2 separate regions of the Homo sapiens genome follow, and region 2 is reported to be linked to region 1. The links are microRNA targets in miRTarBase. Many come from high-throughput screens and were not tested one by one. Region 1 holds a microRNA gene; the other region holds the end of a gene's coding sequence.

Evidence for each region. The annotated mature microRNA hsa-miR-3657 reads UGUGUCCCAUUAUUGGUGAUU and lies in region 1 at 1,597-1,617, shown strand. An mRNA with a match to its seed (bases 2 to 7 or 8) in the 3' UTR can be bound and repressed. Matches are read on the target gene's strand: a 7mer-m8 pairs with bases 2 to 8, a 7mer-A1 pairs with bases 2 to 7 and ends in A, and an 8mer does both.
Region 2: miRTarBase lists CYLC2 as a target of hsa-miR-3657. Seed matches in the 3' UTR shown: 7mer-A1 at 931-937.

The regions. Positions count from the first base shown.
Region 1 is chr12:112,034,841-112,039,243 of GRCh38, reverse strand. It overlaps MIR3657 (microRNA 3657), which reads left to right and starts at 1,529; the gene lies at 1,529-1,645. It overlaps NAA25 (N-alpha-acetyltransferase 25, NatB auxiliary subunit), which reads left to right. Exons shown (of 24, transcript NM_024953.4): 22 at 1-15.
Region 2 is chr9:103,005,086-103,009,488 of GRCh38, forward strand. CYLC2 (cylicin 2) reads left to right here. Exons shown (of 8, transcript NM_001340.5): 5 at 1-1,293. The coding sequence ends at 593. Among named protein-coding and RNA genes, the nearest start is that of CYLC2, 12 kb to the left of the region's middle.

The DNA.
Region 1 (4,403 bases):
ACCAGCATCATCATGGTAATAACAGTAACACAAGTGATATACAAGGAACAATCTGACCACATGCTACTTTTTCTTTTCACTGTTTTCCTCCATGTTGAGTCCTTAGGATCCTATATGCCAAGCTTCTCCAACCCATGGCCCACGATGACTTTGAATGCGTCGCAAACCCGTAAACTTTCTTAAAACGTTATGAGATTTTTTGAGTTTTTTTTTAAAGCTCATCAGCTATTGTTAGTGTTTTTTTTGTTTTGTTTTGTTTTTGTTTGAGATGGAATCTCACTCTATAGCCCAGGCTGGAGTTCAGTGGCACTATCTTGGCTCACTGCAACCTCTGCCCCCTGGGTTCGAGTGATTCTCCTGCCTCAGCTTCCCGAGTAGCTGGGATTACAGGCGCCTGCCACCACACCCGGCTAATTTTTGTATTTTAGTACAGACGGGATTTCTCCCTGTTGGCCAGGCTGGTCTCAAACTCCTGACCTTAAGTGATCTGCCCACCTCGGCCTCCCAAAGTGCTGAGATTACAGGCGTGAGCCACTGCACCTGGCCAACATTAGTGTATTTTATGTGTGGCCCAAGACAATTCTTCTTCCAGTGTGGCCCAGGGAAGCCAGAAGATTGGACATCCCTGCATATGCGTTGTTTTTCTCCCCTAACTTAAAAAAAATTAAATTATACACCTACAGAAAAATTGAAAGATTAATATGACACCCATAAAGATCTTTACCTGGATTATCAATTTTTAACCATTTATCTCATTTGTTTTATCTCTCATTTGTTGAACCATGTAAAAGGAAAGTACAGACTTGTGACATGTAACACATCAGGATAGAACAAGGACAGGTCTCTGCAAAACCATAATACTCAAGAAAATTTCAAACTCAAGAAATTTAGCATTGATACAATGATATTATCTAATAAAGTCCATATTCAGGCCGGATGTGGTGGCTCACACCTGTAATCCCAGCACTTTGGGAGGCCGAGACGGGCAGATCACTTGAGGTCAGGAGTTCAAGATCAGCCTGACCAACATGGTGAAACCCCATCTCTACTAAAAATACAAAAATTAGTCGGGCATGGTGGTGAGCATCTGTAATCCCAGCTACCTGGGAGACTGAGGTATGAGAATTGCTTGAACCCGAGAGGCAGAGGTTGCAGTGAGCCAAGATAGCACCACTGCACTCCAGTCTGGATGACAGAGCGAGACTCCGTCTCAGGAAAAAAAAATCAGTATTCAAAGTTTTCCACTTATCTCAATTATGTCTTTTATACCTTTTTCAAAATACTAGAATGCCGTCAGGGATCTGACATGACCTTTAGTTGTCATGTGTGTTTACCCTTCTTTAATCTAGAACGCTTCCTTAACCTTTTACTTTGTTTTTATTGTTGAAGACACTAGCTTGCTTTTTGGTAGAATGTCCCACAATCTGGATTTAGCTGATTGCTAAATGTAAGCTGATTGCTTATATTGAAGTTAAATATAGACATGTTGTCCTTTTTAGTGAGTTAAATCAGGAGTCACTAATGTTGTTGTGTCCCATAATTAAATAATGAAATCTGAAATCACCAATAATGGGACACTAATGTGATTAATGTTGTTGTGTCCCATTATTGGTGATTTCAGATTTCATATATGATTAAGGACATATCTACCAGATTTCTTTATAAAGGTGCCTTTTTCCCTCTGTAATAAGTAAGCTATAGGATAATGCTTGAGTCTATGAATATCCTATTTCCCAATGGCCCTTCACCCACTGGTTTTAGCATTCATTGTTAGTTCAGCGCCTGAATTAGTTATTACATTGACGTGTCCCAAATGATGATTTTTAAAAATTCTGTCTTTTATCATTTATCAGCTGCTATTATTTTGTAAAATAAGAGATGTCCCAACCCATTCATACATATTTGAATATATTCCAATTTGAATATATATATATATATATATATATATATATATATATATATATATATGTATTTTTTAAAATATCGCTATCTGAGTATCACCATGGACTCTTTTTTAAAAAGTTCACTTTATTATAAGCCATTATCATAATTTTCATTTGGATGCTCAAATTATGCCAAATTTGGCTAGCTCCTTTAAGCTGGTTTCTGTCCTTTAACATGTCCTCATCAGTTTTAGGGCGCTTTCTGGAACAGCATAAATGCTCCACATACTTGGTATTTTTTCAGTGAACTGAAATCAGACATTTTTTCAAGAGCACTGGTTCCTTTCTGGGGAATGAATTTCAAAACCAAGATCTAGGTGTTAGTGTGCTCATTGCTATTGGGGTTCACTGCTTCTAGTTTATTTCTATGACGAGAACTAGACAGCGTTTTTATGCACACGCGCGTGCACACACACACACACACGCACACACAGTTTTACGTACTTTTTTTTTTTTTTTTGAGATGGAGTCTTGCTCTGTTGCCCAGGCTGGAGTGCAATGGCGCAATCACTACAACCTCCACTTTCCAGTTTCAAGCGATTCTCCTCCCTCGGCCTCCTGAGTAGGTGGGATTACAGGCAGATGCCGCTCTCCCAGTTAGTTTTTGTATTTTTAGTAGAGATGAGGTTTTGCCATGTTGCCCAGGCTGGTCTCTAACTCCTGACCTCAGGTGATCCACCTGCCTCGGCCTCTCAAAGTGCTGGGATTACAGGCATGAGTCACCATGCCTGGCCTACATAAAGAATTTTTAGTGATACTTTCAAGCCAGCATTTTAGTGATACTCTCAGTTTCAAGAGTTCTTTCCACTCTTTCCCTCATTCCCTTTTTGTAGCTTCCTTTTCTCAGAGTGAGAACCCTGCATCCAAATATCATCAATATATTTATTTGTTGTTTCACAGTAAATACTAAATAGTTTTGGGAATTCATACGTCAGTTCCACTACTAGTTCCAATAACAAACTCATTAAAGTTCAAATGTTTTGCAATTCTTTTTGTCCTTAGAATACGTTCCAGTGAGTATAGACAGTTAAGATACTCTGTAAACTGGAATTAAAAACTGAGATTACTTTTTATTAATATCATATAAAGTTTATTTCCATTTGTATTCAGTTTTAGGGCTCTCCCCATCTTTATTGATTTAATTTTTGAATGTGAAAAACAGTAACATTTTTTTCCATTTCACAGGAAAATAATTTAGTGCTCATTACAGCTCATGATGTGCTGTTTTATTAAGGTTTGAGTTTATGCTGTTACTATCAATGGGGGTCTTTTGTTTGCTATAGCATTATAATAATCATTATCATTTGAAAATGTTGGCTGGGTGCTGCGGTTCACACCTATAATCCCAGCATTTGGGGAGGCCAAGGTGGGGAGATTGCTTGAGCCCGGGAGTTTTGAGACCAGTCTGGGCAGCATAATGAGACCCTGTCTTAACAAAAAAATTTTTAAAAATTAGTTGGGCATGGTGGCACATGCCCGTAGTCAGTCTTAGCTACTCAGGAGGCTGAAGCAGGAGGATCACCAGAGCCTGGGAAATTGAGGCTGCCGTGAGCTGTGATCGCACCACTGTACAAGGCTGGATGACAAAGCAAGACCCTGTCTCAAAAAAAAAAAAAAAAGAAAGTTGATGTTTCAGTTGTAAATTGACTTTCTGAACAATTCAGTTAAATCCAGGAGTTCTTTAGATTGGATGCTCTGCTGAGTGTTACTATTCATTCACAAACAAAGGGTATTTAGATATGAATGAGGGTGCTACTCTCCTTCACTCTATTCAGGAGAATTAAACAAGAACAAGAACAGAGACAAAGATGATTTAACTGATCAAGAGTACAAAGTTCGAGGCTGGGCACTGGTCGTTCATGCTTGTAATCCCAGCACTTAAGGAGGCAGAGGTGAGAGAATAGCTTGAGCCCAGGAGTTCAAGACCAGGCTGGGCAACATAGCAAGACAAAAAGGAAAAAAAAAAGGAGGGCAAAGTTTGAAAGTATAGGTCAGATTGGCTTTGTTGCTCTCCTTCTAATGAAAGCTTTCAGCCCTAGAACATGTCAGATAGCTTTTTGGGAATTGTCTTTTGTAGTGTTTTTTGTTGTCTTTCTGGTTTCTAAAAATGAGAATGGTTTTTCTGATATCAGAGTAACCCATAAAGGTGTGAATAAAGTGAAGATCATTCATATACTTACCAGTCAGTAATAACCACTGGGAAAATTTTCGTGGTAAACAAACCTGCTATCCAGAAGGTTCTGTAACTTGCCTTTTTGTTTTCATATAACAGGGTATCTTGGACATTTTTTCATGTCAGTAAATATAGATATATCTCATTACTTTTAATGGTTATATATTGTACTGTTATATTAATATGCTATAATTATATTGATGAATTGTTGGTTCTAATTTTTGAATATTATAAATATGCTGCTATTGATACAGACAGATTCACAAAGATACATTTATAATATAATT
Region 2 (4,403 bases), not on the chromosome of region 1:
AAGAAAAGCTAGATGCAAAGAAAGATAGCAAAAAAGGTAAAAAGGATGCAGAGAAGGGCAAAGACTCAGCAACAGAATCTGAAGATGAAAAAGGAGGTGCAAAGAAAGATAACAAAAAAGATAAAAAGGATTCAAACAAAGGCAAAGACTCGGCAACAGAATCTGAAGGTGAAAAAGGAGGTACAGAGAAAGATAGCAAAAAAGGTAAAAAGGATTCAAAGAAGGGCAAGGATTCAGCCATAGAATTACAAGCTGTAAAAGCAGATGAAAAGAAGGATGAGGATGGAAAAAAAGATGCAAACAAAGGTGATGAATCGAAGGATGCCAAGAAAGATGCAAAGGAGATTAAAAAAGGTAAGAAAGATAAGAAGAAGCCCAGTAGTACAGACAGTGACTCAAAGGATGATGTCAAGAAAGAGTCTAAGAAGGACGCCACGAAAGATGCCAAGAAAGTTGCCAAGAAAGATACTGAGAAAGAATCTGCTGATTCAAAGAAGGATGCAAAGAAAAATGCTAAGAAGGATGCAAAGAAGGATGCAAAGAAGAATGCAAAGAAGGATGAAAAGAAGGATGCAAAGAAGAAGGGCAAGTAGGCCTTGGATAAGAATTTGAACCGAAAGAATAATTCAAAAGCATATTTGATGAAACAATAGTGGTAGTCTGCAGCTGAATTTGTGAGAAAACAAGAGGCCTCAAAGAATTAAATAATTTTTAAAAGGTGGTAAAGAAGGATACAAAGGAGAACTCAGCAGAGATTTATAAAAATATATAAGAAAGATGTTAAGAAAAATTAAGGGGGGATCCATTGAAAGACTTGAAGAATACATATACTTATATTCGGGGATATGAAGGATTCAATGAATGATCTCTAGAAAGATTTAAAGAAGAATATTCAGATAAGGATGTTGAAGATAATGACACTAAATCTATGGACACACACACACACACACACACACACACACACACACACACACACACACACACACAGTTTAATGAAGGCTTAAAGAATCCAAGGAGACAGATGTTGTATCTATAGATTTAAAATAATCTCAAGCTGCATCCACAGATACAAAAAAATATAGGAGCCATGAAATGAAGTTAAACACCTTGTAGAAAGCCTACTTTCAAGTAAATATAGCATTCCTTTGGCAAAAAGAAAAAAAAAGTAAAAGAAAAGAAAAAAAATGTATTACCACCCGATGAGCCTACATCTTTCTTTCTGAAGTTTAAACAACCACAGTCATGTTTATGGTTGTTGGATGTGCCACTTCCAATCCAAAAGAAGCACACTTGGTAAGTCAGTTTTGTTTTGTTTACTTATTTATTTATTTATTTATTTATTTTTTGAGATGGAGTCTCTCTCTGTCGCCCAGGCTGGAGGGCAGTGGCGCGATCTCGGCTCACTGCAAGCTCCGCCTCCTGGGTTCACGCCATTCTCCTTCCTCAGCCTCCCAAGTAGCTGGACTACAGGCGCCTGCCACCAAGCCCAGCTGAATTTTTTTGTATTTTTAGTAGAGACGGGGTTTCACCGTGTTAGCCAAGATGGTCTCAATCTCCTGACCTCGTGATCCGCCCGTCTCGGCCTCCCAAAGTGCTGGGATTACAGGCGTGAGCCACCGCGCCCGGCCAGTTTTGTTTTATTTTAAGCCAGATTGAATTAATTATTGTCTTTTTCATTTTTGAGGGTACATAGTAGATTTAATAATAATTGAACCAAATTATAATTAGATAGGAGGAATAAGTTCAAAAGATCTATTTTATAGCATGGTGACTATAGTTAATGACAATATATTGTATTCTTGAAAAATCAATGCTAAGAGAATGAACATTGTGCTCTCATCGCATAAATGATAACCATGTGAGGTGATGCTTATGTCAATTAGCAAGATTTCAGGATTCCACAATGTATACATGCTTCATAACATCATATTGTACACGATAAATATGCTTTTACTGATCAAATTAAATAAATTTAAAATAATAAACATCAAACTAAAGGTTCAAATTGACACTGTTCTTATATTATCTCTGTAATTTTCTGAGTAAATTTCTTTTAGAATTTTATGAAGTTTGGACTTTCTCATGTTAAGAAATATTCAAAGAACATGGAGAGACAACGAAATAAATGAAGCTTTAAAAAGTGTCTGTGGAAAGGTTAAGGAAGTCTGTCATGAGGGAGAGGTTACTAGCTTATGATAGATGATATTATTACCAATTAAGCATCCAAAGTTTTAAAATAGAAAATATTAATCAATTTATTTTGATTGAAAGAAGGATGAAACTCAAAATTGTTTATTACCAACAAGAACAAATTTAAATGAGGCATATGAAAGAGCTACTTGATAAATGGCTAAATACTTCACAAAACTAAATTAACCAAAATTTAACAGAGTGTAACAGAGTAAGAATATATACATAATATTTATTTAGATGTGGAAACAATTAACTTACTGTCTCTAAAACAGTAAAACTCTGTATTAAACTCTGTTGTGACCCATAAGTCCTGTTGATTTGAGGAAAAAATAAAAAGCAGTATTAAGCAAAATGCAATATCCTTGAACTTCTCAATTAAATGACAATTCATTTATTTCTGATTTAACATTTTCTTAAATAAACTCAGTGTTGCTGCAGAACTTGCTAAATGATTTTCTCTTTTTATTCTTCCTGACACAAACTTTGGATGCAACATAAAGCTTCTCTTGGACATTAAAGGAAGGGTCTCCTAGTCTGTATGTTCCTAAGAGCTACCTTCCAAGGAACAGTAAGGAATAATTGTTTTTCTTTAACACTTAACATTGGGTCCTGTCCCTCCTGCATCAACTACTAAGAGTCAGTGGTTATTGTAACTCCTGATCTGCCAGGTGATCACACGTTGTTAGCCTGGGTCAGCTGTAATGGCAGAGGGAGTCAAATCCTGGCCCTTTGTTCTCCTCCCACTCCCTCTAGGAACCTGCTCATCATCTTCCTCTGCATATAGTAAAATTATGTGTTGAGATTGCTAAACTTTTCTGGAAATGTTACCATCTCTCTGAAGATTTAGGAAATCATTTCAAATCCTCTTTTTCCTCTATAAAAAGGCCCTTAAAATTATTTTCACCAATAGGATTCAAAAGTCAGGTTTTAGATTGAAATGTAATGTAAAATGACAGAAAAATTGAGCTTCTACCTTTAATATCCTACTGAGGTGCGCCATCACTAAATTTTCTTGTAGTTAAATTTAATAGCAGTGTCCTTTTATTCCAGTACCTCTTCATTTACATCTATGTTGTTTTCTCAGTTATTCCAATAAAAAATAAAAATGAAAAAAATGGCTTTACATACCATTCTTATGCTGTTGAATTTTATATTTAAATCTAGTATTTACTTATTTACTCAGTTCCATATTCCCATATCCAAATACTTACTTAAGCACCTAGTTGACTAGCTTCCAGGTATCTCAAAATTAACAAATCCCAAAGAGAACTGTTGACATCCCTCCAGCAATGCCTCTTTCTCCCCAAGTTCTGCCAAACCCATTAAATGACGTTGGTATCCAATCTGTAGCTTAATCCAAAATCAGTGAGTCATCCCTAATTACTCTTTTTTCTTCACCCTGCCTACTAGTAGTAAGTCCTATCCTGTCTACCTACAAAATACTCGAGTTGGTATAATTCATTACATTTCTACCACTTCTGTACACTAAAAGTCCAATCAACCATTATCTCTTACTTGAAAACTCCAAAGCCCTCTAAGTGCAGGGGAAGCCCCTGCTTCATGTCTCTCCACAACGCCATATCCCATTCTTCATATAGAAACCATCATGTTTCTCCCTTGGTCAAAGCTTTCTAGTGTACTGATGCCACACTTACCATCAACTTTTCTTTTGCTCTGGCTTATAATGCATTAATGATCTGTGTGCTGACTATTTCCCTGCCCTCATGTGACAACACTATTCCTTTTGTCTACCATGCACTTGTTGCATTGGATTTTTAAAAATATTTTACCACATGTAACCTTACAATATTAAGCCTTTACACTTGTTCCTTCTCCATAGAATGCAATTCTCCTAGAACATCACACTGTTGACTCCTTCAAAATAGTCATTCTCAGCTTACATTTTACATTTCCAGATATATTTCATAGACTAATTTATTTTTTGACACAGTGTCTCTCTCTGTTGCCCAGGCTGAGGTACAATGGTGTGATCACAGCTCACTGCAGCCTCAACCTCCCCAGGCTCAGGTGATTCTACCACCTCAGCCTCCCCAGCAGCTGGGACTACAAGAGCTCTTCACCACATCCAGATAATTTTTGTATTTTGTAGAGATGGAGTTTTGCCATGTTGCCCAGACTGGTCTCCAACTCCTGGGCTCAAGCAATCCACCCGCCTCAGCCTCCCCAAGTGCTTGGATTACAGGAATGGT